2 separate regions of the Homo sapiens genome follow, and region 2 is linked to region 1. The links come from fine-mapping of genetic effects on gene expression. A gene starts in region 1. The other region holds a variant in brackets. All regions are shown on one strand. Distances are between the middles of the regions. Region 1 holds the start of ARPP21 (cAMP regulated phosphoprotein 21). Region 2 has its middle 180 kb from the start of STAC.

The links.
Region 2: its variant is fine-mapped to the expression of ARPP21 in subcutaneous fat (FUSION, PIP 0.92).

Annotation. Positions count from the first base shown.
Region 1 is chr3:35,637,917-35,640,829 of GRCh38, forward strand. ARPP21 (cAMP regulated phosphoprotein 21) reads left to right here and starts at 1,609. Exons shown (of 21, transcript NM_001385562.1): 1 at 1,609-2,482.
Region 2 is chr3:36,554,316-36,557,228 of GRCh38, forward strand. No RefSeq gene overlaps it. Among named protein-coding and RNA genes, the nearest start is that of STAC, 180 kb to the left of the region's middle. The variant C/T (reference allele first, on the strand shown) is at 1,383.

The sequences.
Region 1 (2,913 bases):
TTGGAAAATAATTACCTACTCATCAAGGGTCGGTACAACCTCATTCCATTTTTACAGTAGTTTCTAGAAGTACATGTATCATTTATTTGAGATTTATAATCAATATCTTAGCGTATATGAACACAGCCATAGCTGTAGAAATCACATTTCTATAATAATGCAAAGGCATTTATGTTAATAAATCTGTTTGTAATCTCTGTCATTATGGTTGGGTGTCAATAAGTGAAACTAAAAGGATGTGGAAAATTTCATAACATGTTTTATGCTAGTTATTTGTTTGTTGTCTATTCATGGGGTTACTAATTACAACTGGTAAAAGTTGATTTTCTCCTCTTCAGTTTATTGTGGGATGGGGCGTTCATTTCGCCAGATACACAGTTATTCAGTGTCTACATTTCAGAAGCTGAATTGCTGGATATAGTCAAAATGAGCTTTGGCAATTCCATGTGTGAGTGTACAACTATAATTTTGCTGCACATTAATAACAACCTTGCAAAGAAGCCCAGAATCAAATGCCTTGCTCTCAGCTGGGAGCAGAAAGCTAGAGTGGTATATCTTGGCTGGTGACCTATAATGTTGGAAAAGTAGGCTCTACATTCACTCAGAAGGAGTAGGTGGAATTCCGGAAATTTATTCACTCTCCTTCACTACGCCTTTTCCTTTTTTTTTTTTTTTCCTTCCTTGTAGTGTGTTAGTGAGTGCTCCGAGACAATGAAAAAAAACAATGAATTACAGACAATAAAAATAGTGCATCTCTAGAACAAGCGGTAAAATCAAGGCTTTTATTTCTTCAGGTGTCAACTCTGTTCCTTCCCCAGGTCCTACCCTGCCCAGGTTTCTGTGGCACCTCTGTGATTCCAAATCAGCGATCAGGTGGGCAGCGGTCTGGGCAGTCACCCACAGGGAGTACACTTGGTGCTGCACGTTCGGACTTTCAGTCTTGCTCAAAGCAAAGAATCTCCAAGAGCGCTGAGGCTACGGATTCATTCGGGTGGGGCGAGGTGTTATTATTGTGGGATTGTCTCTGCAGAGTTGGCCTGGAGAGTGAGCGGTGGAGGGAGTGGAACAAGGCTTCGTCAAGAGTCCCCAGGAGTCCAGGGGCGCCCCCGAGACGGGTACGCTGGAGGGCCTGGGCACGGGGGACAAGAGAGAATACATGCCTGCTCGCTGGGAGCAGGGAGGCGGTGTGGCGGGGCAGGGGGCAACGTGCCAGTTTTCTTTCTGATTAATGATGCTCACGCTGCTGCGCGTGGCTCATGCGCTTTGTCTCCAGCCTTAGGGCTGGCGGAGAACGGCCCAGGGAATGAGTGGTACCGCGGGCGCCCGGCGCACCCAGCAGGTGCCATCACTCTGGATGGGCCAGTTCTGGATGCTCCCAGTGGCGCAGAGGCGGCGACACTGGCAGGCGTCCGGCTGCCGCCACCTCCCGGGTGTGGCGGGTCTGGGGCCCGGGGTCTCCGGCCAGAGCAGCTGTGGAGCCACGTGCAACACGCGCGTTGCCCTCAGCCCGGGCGGGGACCGGACGCATCCGGAGCTGCGGGGAGGAGCCGGGCGCCGCCCCCGGCGGCAGTGCCAGCCGCGTGGGAGGGCACGGACCGGCGGAGGGGCAGACGACGGAGGCGGCCAAGCTGGAGGAACGGGACCGAGGGATCGACCGAGGCTGGCTGGCTAGGGGTGGGACTGGCAGAGCTACGGACAGGTGGGAGCAGTCAGACAGCCTGAGAGAGGGAGACCAGAACGCAAAGAGAGCGAGAGCATTAAGTAGGCAGGGAGAGGCACACAGAAAGATAGACAGCAACACTCGCGTGCTCCCTCCCTCCACACGCCCTCCTCTTACCGAGCGAAGCGGCCAGGGGCACAGAGTGGGAGAGGACTGTGGGCACAGAAGACCGGAAGAGGGACGCTGCATTGCTGGTGGGACGGAGGGATTCGGACGGACGGACAGACCAGCGCACAGACTGGCAGCCTGCGAGAGTGGCAGCTTTGAGAGCAGAGCGCAGCAAAGCGAGAATCCCGCGCCGAGCTGCTAGTCGGACCCACAGACGGTCGGACTGACAGACGTGCAGACGGACAGAAGAGCAGACAGGAGGCGGGGGCGCGTTCACTCCCGGCGGCCAGCCGGCCAGAGAAGGCGGCGGTGGCACCTTCTGAGCGCGTCCGGAGCAGAGACCAGCAGCAGCAGGGGCAGCGGGGACACAAGCCGCGACCGAGCCGCCGCCGCAGCCCTGGCTGCCACAGCTGTGTGGGATCCCAGCCGACACTGCAGAAAGCTCCTTTTACTAGCAGTTAAATAAATCGACCAAAAACAAAACAAACAAACAAACCCAACAACAACAACAACAACAAAAGCCAAGCCAAAAGCCAAAACAAACAAATCCAGCCAAATCAATCATTGAGAAACAATAATATTAATAAAATCCAAAACTAAATCAAACCAATCAAGGCACCAAGACGCAGGGGGGATATCCACAGTTCGATCAAGGTAATAATCAAGGTCTTCCGACGTGAACATTGCACGCCTTTTGTGGATTTTTAGAATTCCTTCTTTCTTTCTGCCATATATCTGTCTGTTTCTTTTGAATTTTTTCTTGTCTGTATTTCTTCTTCGTGTTTGTAGAAAGCTGATGTTGTTATACATGTATTGTGTTTTTTATGTTTCGTCAAGGAGGGATGGACGCTCCTTCCCCCAGAAAAGACAGAAATGGAAAGCTGGAAGTTGGCAATGATTTTCATCAGAGAAGTCTACAGTGATTTGTATAGGCTTTATGGTAGAAAGTTTGCAATGCTCTTTTTGAAAGAGACCTATTGAAGAGGTAGAAAGTTATACTCTGTTTGTTGTCCTGGAAGGATTGGGGTCCTAGGTCCCAAAGGGCTCAAGGGGAAGAATAGAAAAGATGTTCAGTTTTATTTTTA
Region 2 (2,913 bases), 920 kb after region 1:
TCTCACTTTCCAAAAAGGCAATTTTATATTGGAAGTATGGTAAGGCAGCCTTCTTTCAGCTCTTTCTCATATAATTTCCTAACACTTGAAGCACTTTAATTTCACTAGAACTTACGGATGATGAAGGAGGGTATTTTGTGGATATTGGGCAGAGTTAGATTTTGTGGGCTAAGGGTTTTTTTGTGGGTTTTTTTTTTTTTTTTTACTTTTTAACACAAATATTTCCAATTGTGTGGGCCCTTCATGCTGGAGTGTTTGAGTATTTGAGCAATATTAGCAGTATTACCAGAAGATTGGGAGAGGGATAGAGGAGCTGGTGAGGAAGAGGGGATGGGATTAGGTAGAGGCATGATGGAGGCCACAGGAGAAAGAGGCTGCTGACTTATGCAACATATAATTCCAAAGAGGGTTTAGGTTCATGTCTCATCTCTAGAGAAATGTCCTAAGAAGAATAATCCATCCAGGTAAGGCCCCATCCTTCCCACATCTGTCCTGATGTTTAGGACCCCAGAAGAAAATTATTTATAGAATAATAAGGGTTAAAACATCACCAAAATGGAAACAAATATATATGCTTCTTCACAACCAAGGGAACCAGGTTTGTCTGTTTTTTTAAATCACAGGCATCTTGTGATTTGGGCCAAATTCCTGTCATTCATGATGGATCTCACAAGAGCCTTCGTGGTATAGAGAGATCCCAAACATGAAACTGCTCACCCCTAGTGCTGCCAAAGTTGTTTTTCTCCCTTTCAATCACAGGCAGCTGGGGGATGGGGGGAGAGCCAAGACATTAAATACTAAGAAATTAGTTTACAACTTTTGCAGATGTGATATTAAAAACATAAAATTCAATGCAATGAAGCAGTGCAGGGCAAATTGTGTTGATCCAGTGCTGGGAATAAATCTATGAGCTTTCAAGACCAAGAAACATCTATTGCACTCACAGGAGAATCAGCCATCTGAGGAGTATAGTGTACTCTGCAGAAAAAGAGTGGAACAAGGAGGTTAGGCCGGGCATGATGGCATGCACCTGTAGTCCTAGCCACTTGGAAGGCTGAGGCAGGAGGGTCACTTGAGCCCAGGAGTTTGAGGCTGCAATGAGTTATGATTGGTCCACTGCATTCCAGCCTAGACAACATAGTGAGACCTTGCCTCTAAAGTAAAATAAAAAGAATGGGACAATGAGGGTCCAAGGACTCAGCCAAGAGGGCAGTAGCAGGATTCAGATGAGGTTCCAGATACAGCAAGCTGTCGTGTGGGGATGGGGCAGCACCAGGCAATGAAGAATCACCAAAAATGTAGCAAGACTGAGCAGATTGTACTCAGCTCTGTGTCTACTGAAGGAAGAAATACTTGAAGAGCCCTTGGTTTGAAGTGTGAGA[C/T]CCTCAATGCACCAGCTGAAGTAACAGCAGATTGATGCTAACCTGACTTCTAGAAAGGGTAGTTCCTGTTACCTCTAGGGCTTTGGTTTTGCTGAGGAGCCTGCAAGCTGGACCACAGCTGAACTTTCTTGAAACTTTGAAGAGAGCCCCCTGTACCCCTAGTCCAATGAGACTCATTAAGGACCTCTGATCTCCATTGTTCTAAGATAACACACTTGGATTGTTTAAGCCACTAAGTTTGTAGTCATTTGTTACAGCACCAACAGGAAACATACAGCATTGCACTGCCACTTGGAAAGGTGGAGAGATAACAAGAGAAATTTAACTGAACCCCATTGTTATGCCTAAAGAATATTGAGCTCCCAAAGCTCAGAAAAAGCCAGCTAAGGAGAATGGAAAAAATCCAATAGCATGGTGGTAATGTGTAACCAGTGTAGGAAAGTTATCATCTCCTTGGCCAAGGTAGCCTCGGATGAGAGAAGTGGGGAAAGATTCCTCAGTTTGGCCACTAGGACTATATCCAAGGGCACACTGTCCCTGCCACCTTGGAGCCTACACTGAGGATGCTACTGCAGTGCATGTTCTAATCAGAAGGCAAGGAATTCCAGCATGTGTGTCTACACACATACATGCACACACGCGTACACGCACGCGCACACACACACACTCAGATGGAATTTATACTGCACTCTGATAAAGATTTAAGCAGTTATTTCTTCTTTGAGTCAGTTGATTGATTTCAAAGCCAGTCCCTACCTGTTTTTTACACAAGAAGCAGTCTCAGTGCCTAGGCCTCTCTTTTCTTACCTCTCTCTTTAACCCTTCTGTCCCCACCTCCACCACCATCCAGAGACTACCACACTCAGAAATATTCCACCTCCTTGAGGAAATAATACCTTTCTTATGTCTTGTAAACTTCATAGCCTCCAGAGATGAATATTAAAAATCTGTTTTTCTCCTCCCAGTTCTTGTTTTTCTCAGCAGGGAAGGCGTAAATTTTGGTCGCAGTGACCGCTGGCTTTGTGTGACCTGGGAAAGCAAAGCAGCGCCGAAGATAAGCTCTGGTCTGATGATAAGGAGATGATGACATATGAGCATTTCCACCTTAGCCTGTAATTTATTTCTCGAATACATTATATATTTATATCTCAACACAGATCAATCATTACCAGCAATGAGTAACTGATAAAGCATGAGAGAAAGAGGTCTCTAAGCAAGAGAAGACTGCGGGAAACAAGAATATAACATGCTTGGGGTGATATAGGTAGGTGAAGGAACCCAAGAAGAAGTTTATGGGACATCATGAAGTATAGGTGAAAGTGACATTCAGTAAGGGTTCTAACTGGTGTTGGGGGGAAGACAGAGTTGGTATTGGGAGAGCTGAAACAGAAGGGAAGACACTTTTAGGAACAAGAGAGGAGCAGGCTAGCAATGAGGGAGGCTGTGACTGAGTGGCAGTCTGTAGCCATATAGGGCAACAACAAGAGACCCATGGCAGCACAGCAAGGTCAGGCAGCCTGTTTGGCAGCAA